Linked DNA regions of Homo sapiens: region 1 is linked to region 2. The links come from fine-mapping of genetic effects on gene expression. A gene starts in region 2. The other region holds a variant in brackets. All regions are shown on one strand. Distances are from middle to middle. Region 1 overlaps LOC105372706 (a long non-coding RNA gene). Region 2 holds the start of SS18L1 (SS18L1 subunit of BAF chromatin remodeling complex).

What was found. PIP is the estimated chance that this variant, and not a neighbour inherited with it, causes the effect. A credible set is the group of variants that fine-mapping cannot tell apart.
Region 1: its variant is the best candidate, but not a certain one, in a credible set for the expression of SS18L1 in aorta (GTEx, PIP 0.68).

The regions. Positions count from the first base shown.
Region 1 is chr20:62,097,097-62,102,460 of GRCh38, reverse strand. It overlaps LOC105372706 (a long non-coding RNA gene), which reads left to right. Exons shown (of 3, transcript XR_936963.2): 3 at 1-1,318. Among named protein-coding and RNA genes, the nearest start is that of LSM14B, 23 kb to the left of the region's middle. The variant C/T (reference allele first, on the strand shown) is at 3,241.
Region 2 is chr20:62,140,820-62,146,183 of GRCh38, reverse strand. It overlaps SS18L1 (SS18L1 subunit of BAF chromatin remodeling complex), which reads right to left and starts at 2,415. Exons shown (of 11, transcript NM_198935.3): 1 at 2,295-2,415. The coding sequence starts at 2,363. PSMA7 (proteasome 20S subunit alpha 7) reads left to right here and starts at 2,790. Exons shown (of 7, transcript NM_002792.4): 1 at 2,790-2,976; 2 at 5,240-5,364. The coding sequence starts at 2,881. RefSeq lists silencers at 1,939-1,988, 2,019-2,078, 2,199-2,908, 2,949-3,588.

The DNA of each region.
Region 1 (5,364 bases), 44 kb after region 2:
CCTGGCCCAGTCACCCAACCCCACTTCCGGGCTTCAGCTCTTGGGCCAGGTGGGCACACTCTGTCTTCTTTTTCTTGTGCAAGTGACATCCCAGGTGCCATTTCTCGAGGTTGCCAGGCTTCCCAGCCTCTGGCTCCTGCTTGTGTCTTTGTAGGGGAGGTGGCTATGATGGTGACAGCACATTCGAAGCAGCAGTGGTTACAGTTTCCTTCTAAAAATACATTGAAGACAGAGTCAAATGTAAGGGGGTGACTTCTGGTTCAGCACAGCGTGCAGAGCACACGCTTCTCCCTGGATCTTGGACCACAGAGGGGACACTGCTGACCTTGCTCCTCTGGGGCATCCCCTCCCTAGACTCACGGGAGGACCACAGAGGACACGGCTGACCCTGCTTATCTGTGGGCATCTCCTCTCTGGCTCAGCTGGAAGACAGACAGCTGGGCAGTACCAACTGGGCAGACCAGGGAGAGGCAGAGCCCAGGCACACAGGGTGGGGAATCCCCAGGACCCCAGAGGGACTCCATCCAGAAGGCCAGGCAGCTCTGAAGGTGGAGCATGGGGTGGACTGGGAGCTCAGACCCACCCCTAGGAGACTGCTTTTCCTACAGATGCAGGCAGAAGACAGGGGTCCAGGTGCTGCTCTCAGGAGTCAGGGCTGGGAGGTTCTGGGCTGGGGCCAGGGGTAGGCACAGCCTGTGAGAGAGCAAGGCACTGAGGAGGGCCAGGAGATCAGGTCACAGCCACATCCTGAAAGGTGGCCTGAGCCCTTTACTCTGCTCCCTCCCCGAGTGCCAACAGCCTGATGTGTCTCCCGGGTGGGAGGTGGGGGCTCTGTGGAATTGCGCTGGCCTCTTAAGAACCCTGACCACATATTCAGACCTTGCTGCTTCCCCCTCTGAGGTCCACCCTGGAGCAGCCCCTCATCCCCCTACACCCACACTGCTCCACCTCAGCACTTTTGAGCCTCTCATGAAGACACGTGGACCCCAAGGGTCACTGGACTTTGAAGAAGAAAAAGACCCCACACGAAAGACAGATCCCACATCCCCATGCACCAAAGAAGGGAGCTTGGGGGAAAGAGTAGCAACCTGAGGAACAAAAAATATAAAAAAGAAAAAACCTTATTGCTGATACCCTTGGAGAGAGAAGAGAAAACAGCACATCCATGACCTAAGAACAGGATGTAATAAAAAAGGAACAGTGAGAAATTAAGAAAGAGCTCTTGGAAATGAAAAAAAAAAAGCACAAATGAAAACTTCCATAAAAGATAAATTTCTCAGGCGGGGCGTGGTGGCTCACATGTGTAATCTCAGCACTTTGGGAGACCAAGGCAGGTGGACCATCTGAGGTCAGGAGTCCGAGACCAGCCTGGCCAACATGGTGAAACGCTGTCTCTACTAAAAACACAAATATTAGCTGGGCATGGTGGTGGGCACCTGTAATCCCAGCTCTTCAGGAGGCTGAGTCAGGAGAATCACTTGAACCCAGGAGGTGGAGATTGTGCCATGAGCCGAGATTGTGCCACTGTACTCCAGCCTGGGTGACAGAGAGAGACTCCGTCTCAAAAAAAAAAAAGATAATTTTTTCATAAAGTAGAGAAAATGAAATGAAAAATAGGGAAGAAAACATTAATAAGAGCTCCAGAAAGAGAAAACAGAATGGAGAGCATCGCCAAGCAAGTGATTTATGAGGAAACATCCTAAAATGTGGACGTGAGGCTCCAGGTTGAATGAGTGAAGGAAGGCCGGCATGGCATCATGAAATTTCTGAACACAGGACATGAAGCCAACTCTTGGCAGAGCAGGTCCCAGTCCCACGAAAGAGCTGGTGATCTGACTGGCACTGCCTCTCAGGTGGCTGCAGGTGGACAATGTCGGCAGCGGGCAAAACCTTCACAGCCCCGTGGGAAGCTACTCTGCATCCTCGTCCCCCGGGGGACCCTAAGACTGAGGAGGCCTCCAGGCACCTTTCTCAGTGAACTCCTAGAGAATGTGCAGGGAGTGAGCGGGGAGGGCAGTCGGGGGACCCAGGTTCCGCTCAGGACAAACCCCAACAGAGGTGTGGGAGCTCGTTGCCCATGGACAGCAGTGTGAAGAGCAGCCGCCTGGGGAGTCAGGGCCAGGCTGCCCATGAGAGCCCCTGGGAGGATGGGGCTGATGGCTTTCTTGCTCCCCACGTGGAAAGGTGGCCCAGGACACGCTTTCTAGAGTCCCTGGGGAGGTTTGGGATGGGAACAGGCAGACACAGGATAAACTGACCGCAAGAACGACTTACACCCAAAGCCTGGAGGAGTGCGCTGCTCAGGCCTGCGTGGGCCCAGGGGACCACCCTCTGCCGGGCGGGTGAGCAGAGGAAGTGCAGGGAAGCAGCAGCAGGACAGCAGGGCCGTGGGGCTGGGAATCCAGAGCAGGCAGGGCCACGTTCTTCTCTTCGTGGCCTCATCTGTGGCCTCAGATCGTTTTGATGCAGATGCAAAGGATGCCTTAGGAGAGTCAGCTCTGTCGCCATCAGGATTTCCGTCTGTATCAGAGGCAAGGGTGTACCCATGGGAAGCAGAGGTGGGTCCAGGGGTGCACGGAGGAGGGTGGGCTGCTCAGACAGCAAGCAGGTGGTGAGGACAAACCTGAGAGAAGCCGTCTCAGCCAATAGCAGTGGCCACTCAGATCATCCAGTCATTGGTTCATTCATTGATCTGTTGATGGACTGATCCCCCCATCACTGATGTACTGATCCCACAGACACTCATTGAGTGTGGGTCAACATACAATCCCCACGCTGGTGAGCATCGGGGCTGGGGTGGGGCTGGGCACTCTATGGTAAGGGCTCCTTCCTTGGTCTGGGACTGAGGCCTCCTACCTGCTGCACCCTGGATGTACCTCGAGGCTTCCAGGCCAACTCTAGGTGTGTGGTTTAATGGGCCTGGGTGTGGCTGAGTATGGGGTTTTATCCAAGCTTGCCAGGCATTCTAATAAGTAGCCGGGGGTATGAGCTGCGGGTCTAGGGAGAGCGGGGGAAGCTTCAGTGAGAATCTAGGAGGAAGGAGTGGGCAGAGAGGTGGGCTGCAGAGTCCCCTGAAGGCTGGTGTGGGGAGGCAGCTGTGAGGGTCTGAAAGGGGGTGTGGAGGGACAGGCCGGGGAGAGCCAGGAGGAGCCCCCACGGAAGGGCTGGGTTGAGGGAGGGCATGGGAGAGCAGAGCTGGGAGGTTACAGGAGAGCCTGGAGAGGACAGAGGGGACGGCCT[C/T]GGCATGGCAGCTGCACCCACAGAGCAGGCAGTACCACATGGCACCTATCGAGTGCTGCCAGATGCCCAGTGACTGAAGCAGGGCTAGTGGGGCGATCTGTAGGCAGGATGTCCATGGGGTCCTGGGTCTTGAAGTGAAGAACATGCTTCTAGACTGTTCTTCACTGCCCTGTTCAGCTTTCCCCTGTCCAAGACGCCGGCTCCCAACAGGTCGGGGGGTGACCTGGAATGGCGTGGAAATCCTCACCAGCTGGAAGATGGTGGAGTTGGGTCCAACCCAGCAGCCACCCCCTCCACCATGAAGTGGCAGGAGGTGAGTTCTGGGGAAAGCTGGTTGGTTCTAAGCAGCACCCTGTCTGTGGCAGGACAAACCCACCTGACCCAGTTCTGTGCTATTTTTTTCTTTTTTCTTCTTTTTTTTTTTTTGAGATGGAGCCTCCACTGTCACCTGGGCTGGAGTGCAGTGGTACAATCTCGGCTCACTGCAACCTCCGCCTCCCAGGTTCAAGCGGTTCTCCTGCCTCAGCCTCCTGAGTCACTGGGATTACAGGCGCCCACCACCGTGCCCAGCTAATTTTTTCTATTTTTAGTAGAGATGGGGTTTCACCATGTTGACCAGGCTGGTCTTGAACTCCTGACCTCGTGATTCACCCGCCTCGGCCTCCCAAAGTGCTGGGATTATAGGCGTGAGCCACCGCGCCCGGCCTGTTCCATTTTTAAACTCCCAGCTTGCGGGACTCCTTCACCATCACCTTTTGATCTCCCTGGAAGACAAGGGTTTTTTTGGTTTCTTTTTTCTTTTTCTTTTTTTCAAGAAGGAAATGTTCTAAAACAAAAGATTTGTCTAGGCCTACATCTCCTTTTCCACAAGATTCACCTGGGAGGAGGTGCAGGCCGGGCGCCGCTGCAGCATCTTTTCCTGCCGTTCACTCTGGTGCGGGAAGGGACGCTGGGGAGCCTGTGACTGAGGGAACAGTGGACCCCAGGCAGGCCCCTCCCCAACGGCACGCTGCAGGTCCAGCTTTGCTGGAGCCCTACGCTCGTCCTGGCTGCAGGGTCTGTCCTGAGCAGCCCGTGAGGCCGTCGGGGCCCTACCTGGCTCCTCTCCTGCTTCCTCCTGGCCAGTGTCCAAAGAGCCCCAGCCCCAGGCCCAGGTCCCCACCCTGGGCTCCCACGGATCTGGGCTCCAGCACATTGAACCCTGGGCTTTTCGGATGACTGTGTTCACTCTGTGTTTCAGAAATCCATTCTGACACCAGAAAAGCCATGGGCTGCCCTTCCCATCTTCCATTTCCCTGCAGTGGGGCCTGTCTGCCTGTGTGTAAAACGCTTCCTGGAATGTGCCCTCCGCCCGACTGTCCGCGGTGCCCCCACCCTGCCTCTGGCAACACCCATCCCCCTGCATGGGGGCACAGAATTCTCTCTCCCCACACCCTCTCCCACCTGCACCTGCCCCTTCAGAGCCATGCCCCCCCAAAAGCATGCAGATGCCTGCCTCATGCCCACCCTCTTCCTGGGAACCCTCATGCCCATGTCCGCAATCGCCTCCCACCCCCTACTCCACTACGTTTGCCCTGAGTGTGGTGCCTGCGTGGCCTTCCCGGAGCAGCCTCTTGACAACTGTTCTGCTGGGGCTCAAATTACCCATCACTGGACAGTGGGTGCAGTGAGCAGGGGGAGTCCCCAGTGTGAGGACAGGCGGGAACTGAAGTCATGTCGTGGGACGTGGTCATGGACAGGATGGTCTCCCACCCCTGGTGGGAGGACCCAAGGGTCTGGTCCCGTGAGGCCCCCAGGGCATTTTGTCCTTGGCTGTGCCCGTGGTGGCATCAACACGACTTCCCCAGCCTAGGGGCCTTCCTTCCTCTTTGAGACCGCCGCCACCCCCCACCCTGCTCTCTGATCCGACCAGGCAGGCCCTCCATTCCCCCGGTCCTTGCCATGCCCCATGAGGGACGCAGAGGTGGGACACTGTCCCTACTGCATGGATGAGAAACCCAAGCCCCAGGGCCCGCCTCGGGCCACACAGCCGGCGGGGACAGAAGAGGCGCCCAGTGCCATTCTGGGTGACAGGTAACCGCAGGGCCCAGCCCTTCCTGGATCCACTTCTCGGCTCCTGGCCTG
Region 2 (5,364 bases):
GTTGAGTAGAAGTTGGCCTGGAAGATCTCCACCCACACAGAATGCTGTAAGGACAAGGTGTAGACCTCTTTCTCCTTCACTACCAAGCAGAATGCTGTAAGGACAAGTTGTAGACCTCCTTCTCCTTCACTACCACGCAGAATGCTGTAAGGACAAGTTGTAGACCTCTTTCTCCTTCGCTACCACGCAGAATGCTGTAAGGACAAGTTGTAGACTTCCTTCTCCTTCACTACCACGCAGGCTTCAGAGGGGTCCCTGGCTTCTCTTAAAGCTCTCGGCATGACACTACCAGCACACACTGTGGACACAGCACACGTCTGAGGCATAGAACATACACCTCTCACACCTTTCTCAGCCTTCTCACACCTCCCAGTAAAAGATCCCTGGGTACATATATTCACCGTCAAAACACCAAGCCCAATACGCAGACTGCTGGCCCTACCAAGCCAAGTCAGCAGCCTAAACTGAAGGCCTATTTCCAATGGTCAGCAGGCTGAGTTTCTGCCCAGGGACCCACGGTCCACAGGTGCATTTCTTCCTTTCTGATCTGATGTTCGGGGCAGCACCTCAATACACACTTTTACCTGGAGAATTTGGGGAGCTTCAATGGAACTGTGTGCGAAGTGCAAATAATGGGATAAACGTTGCAGCCAAAGGTAGCTTCAGGAACAATGACTGTTAAGCTCCAAAAAACCAGAGTGCCAGGAGATGCTCTGGGTTCCAACATTTGCCTCTGAGCCTAGAGCTTGACCTCCGCCTGGCCAAATGTTCCCAGATCAAGGGGCACCAACAGAGCAGACCCTGGAGCCACCGTATGGGATCGACACCTGGCTGTGCCACTTACCAGCAAGGCATTTAGCCCCCCTAGGCCTCAGTGTCCACTTACCAGCAAGGCACGGCCTCCCTAGGCCGCAGCCTCTTTAGCTATTAAACGGGATGCCAGTAGCTTCTATGAAGAATTGGATGAATCAAGATTTATAAAACCCCTAGAACAGTGTCTGGGATACGGTAAGCGCCACATAAGTGTTTACTAAGTAAATTAAAATGCCACACTTGTAAATCTGTATTTCTGCTATTCTCAATCTCTCCTGTTCAGAGTTGGCCAAGGTTCTCATTTGTTAAGACCATCAAATTTCTAAAACTAGCAACAGCAAAGGTAGTCTCAAAATAGGCGATAGATTTAGGACAACTTCCACAGGAGACTGGCACGTCATCAAGGAATAACAGCCTCAGTCAAGGTCAAGGTGAACCCCCTTAGGGAGACAAGCGGCTCCTGGGAACCTAGGAATACCACTGTTTATCCCTGCAATCCCACCAGGGTGAAGACGGAGTCAGAGTTTAGGAAAAAAAACCAATGTCATTCCAACAGATGTTGTGACAACTGAAACGGGTATGGCTAATGCTGATTTTCTTCCGAATCTGTCTTCTACAGAAAAAACAGCAGAAAATACAAAGTCTCAATTTCAAAACTTAGGGCTTTGGATAACGGTGTCCCAAACCCACATAAACGCTGTCTCTTGAAAACCACAAGGCCGAACTTACGGAGCTAGAAGAAAGGTTGTGGAGCAAATCCGTCAAGTTTGTTAGGCGAGGCGGCTGGCGAGGGTGTCACGCTGAAACCCGGCGTAGCCGCGAGGATACGGAGGGGGCGGTGCGCTCCCTACGGGGCCGGGCTGCGTAACGATGCCCCGCAAATGGGGATCGGGACGCGTCCTTCCGTGCCTCCATCGTTCGCGCCTCGCTCCAGGAGCAAGAGGGGCAGCCCCGGCCACAGTCCCCGCGGTCGCAAGTGCGCCCGGAGGCCGACCCGGGCCCCTCACCACTAACCAAAATGAGCGCAGAAAACGAGTACCGCCCGCCGTCGCCACCGAAGCTGGCTGCGGAGCGCGACAAGCCCTCGCCGCGGCTCCGGCCCCGAGGGGTCCCCGTGCGCCCGGCATAGCCCAGGACAGTTCCCAGCGCGCGCCGCGGACTCGGGGGACAGCGCGCTCGGGGGCCGGCAGCCTCCAGCGTCCGCCCGGCCCCCACCGCCCAGTGCCCCGGCCCGAGGGACCCGCGCGCCCCAACAAAGTTGGCGCAGGCTCTCCGGGGACCGCCCCCCACACGGCCGGGTGCCCGCCGGCGCGCAGGCGTGGGACGCGGGGAAGGGCACGGGGCCGCCGTCGGGGCTCGCGGCCGCCCGGCTGCGCCCCGGCTTTGTTCGCGCCCCGCGCCCGCCAGCTGCCCGCGCCCCGTCCCCGCGCGCGCCCGCCCGCAGACCCGCCGCCCAGCGCCGCCGCTCCGGCCCGGCCCACCTTCTGGATGGTTTGCTGCGTAACCTCCCCTTTGCCTCTTGGCCGGGCAGACGCGAAGGCCACGGACATGGTGGCGGCGCGGGGCTCAGCCCGTGGTCATCGAGGTGGATACTCCGGCTGCGCTGGGCGGCCCGAGGCGCTCATTATCCGCAGTCGCGGAGGGGGGGAAGGGGGCGGGAGCGCGGGGGGCGCCGCGTCGTGGGCTCGTCCGCCCCGTCGCCGTCGCCGCGCCTCCGGGCCCGCGGCGCCGCCGCTCCGCCCTGCAGAACGGTCTGCGGCCCAGTGCCGAACGGTGGCCCCCGGCGACCCCCTCGCACCCAGCGCCCGGCCCTCGCCGGAGCACCGCCTCCCACCCCCGGCCACCGGTGGTTCGGCCTGACCCCGCCCCGGCGCGCGCCATCACGTCCGCCCGACGCCGCCTGACGCTGCCCGTCGCCGCCTGACGCCGCCCGTCGCCGGCAGCGCAGGACACGGCGCCGAGGGTGGGGCGCGGGCGTAGTGGCGCCGGGAGTCGCGGGTGCGCGCGGGCCGTGAGTGTGCGCTTTTGAGAGTCGCGGCGGAAGGAGCCCGGCCGCCGCCCGCCGGCATGAGCTACGACCGCGCCATCACCGTCTTCTCGCCCGACGGCCACCTCTTCCAAGTGGAGTACGCGCAGGAGGCCGTCAAGAAGGGCTCGACCGCGGTGAGGCGGCGGGGCCTGCGCGGGGCCGGGGACGCGGGCGGAAGTGGGGCTGGGGAGCCCAGAGAGGGCCGGGGCCGGGCGCGGCGCTGTGGGCGCCCGCGGGCGTGCGCGGGGCAGCGGCGCGGGCGGTCAGGGCTGTAGCTGAGCGCGGGCCCCGCTGCCGGTCTCCACGAGTGCCTGCAGAGGCGGCGTTTGGCGTGAGCCGCGAGCGCTCGTTCTCCCCACTCAGCGCCTCGCTTGGGGCCCGGCCTCGCGTGGGGCCCCGGGCACGGGGGCCGTGACGACGCCATCTTGAGCACCCCTGGCCCCGGCCGGGCGCGTGGGTCGCGCCGCCGCCCCGGCGAGCAGAGGCCGGGCGAGGGCCGCTCTGGGCCGCGGAGCGCGGGGGGTAGGCCGTGCGCTCGCTGGGGGGCTGTTCACGCAGCCGGGTGGCTGGGGAGCGAACTACTCAAACCCCCCTTATGGGGACCCCCACCCGCTCCGGGGCAACACTTATTCTCTAGGCCCAGGTGGGCTTCGAGAACAAAGCGGCTCGCTGGCCTGGCCGGTGGCGGGCGCCTCCCAGGTCTCCGCACTCTGCCGGGAGGAGCCTTCCCGGGGCCGGGCTGCAGCCGCCCGGGTCAGGACTGGTTTGGACGCGGCCGTTTCGTTTTGACGAGGGCTCGTGTACATTGACCTTAGTGACATTGTTTGAAACTTAAATTCGTACCATCAAGACGTGTCAGTTTAATTGGTCAGTCTGTGAGATCGTTATTCTTTTATCATCTGGTATTCAGAGGTTTGAGCAGGCAGAGAAAGCAGCACACACGGTTCTGTAAATTTTGATTTGTTTTCATTTTCTGAATCTTTGTTTTGAAATGAAGGCCCAGTATTCATCAGGTGATCTAACTCAGCTTAAAGAGGACTAGGAGTCGGCTGACCCCTGTACCCACCCCAATACTGCCACCCCCGCCAGCTGGCCGCCGCTGGCTTTAACGAACCCATATAGCTTCTCTGGGCCTCGAGTCAGTCGAAGGTCAAGTGAGTCAGTACCTGAGAAAGCTCCCAGAAAACCCAAACACTTCAGATCAATACTTCTCAGCCAGGGATGGTTTTGGGCCCACACGGAGCCACTGGCAGTGTGTGGAGACTTTTCCAGTGGTAAGACCTTGCAGAGGTGCTCTTGGCATTTGGAGGGTAGAGGCCAGGGACGCTGCTCAATATCCCACCCGTGCTCAGGGCGGCAGGCACAGGGAGATCCCCCTGCCCAGGTGCTCACAGTGCTGAGCTGGAGAAGCCCTGCTCTAAACCAGGAGGCGCTGTTTATCCCAATGATGGTTCCCTTTGTTTCTGGCTTGACTCGGGTTGACTGTCAGTGATTGTTCATGCTTTTAATAACAGCCATATCCTTCTCCAGCATCAGCCATAAACAGTTTGGGATAACACTTGACACCTTGTCCACTGACGGCAAATCAGGCCCCTTCTCATGGCTGTCACATGAGTATGTCACAGTGCAGGAAACAGTGCATTGTGGCTCAATATAATTTCACAACTACAGAAACACTGCCTTCAGAACACCAGACTTGAGTGAAAGTCTCAGGCTTCCAGGCTTTGCATGGGACTGATTCATTGGGTTGAAAGGAAACACATGCCGATTATATAATGGTTACTTACTAGCTATGTTGTAACTAAAACTACATCTCAGTATTTGAAAGGCCCAGGTTGGGCACCTAGGTGAGCACGCCTGGGCTAGCTCTACCAGCAGTAGATGAATACCCCTGGGTTTGCAGGATGTGGTGCCAGCCACAGTGACAGACAAGTAGAGGAGAAAGGGGTGTGGGTGAACGCACCTTCCAGTGGGAGCTGCTACCCGGAGTACGTACCCCCCAGGACCCAGGTTCAGATCTGCTCCTACTGCTCGCTGCCTGGCAGTAGAACCATGTATCACTTTTTTGGGAGGATAGGGTGGGGTGAGGGGACAGGGTCTTGCTGTCTCTGTCTCCCAGCCGTCATGGCTCACTGCAGCCTCCACCTTCCAGGCTCTAGCGATCCTCCCACCAGCCCCCACAGTAGCTGGGACTACAGGCTTCAGCCACCACACCTGGCTAATTTTTGTACTTTTTGTAGAGACAGGGTTTTCCCATGTTGTCCGGCTGGTCTTGAACTCTTGAATTTAAGTCATCCACCCACCTCAGCCTCCCAAAGTGCTGGAATTAACAGGCATGAGCCACTGCACCCAGCACTCATATCACTTTCTTACGTGGTTTGTGGATCTTAATTAAAGGTTGGTGTTCGAGGAAGAGACATTGTTGTTCTTGGTGTGGAGAAGAAGTCAGTGGCCAAACTGCAGGATGAAAGAACAGTGCGGAAGATCTGTGCTTTGGATGACAACGTCTGCATGGCCTTTGC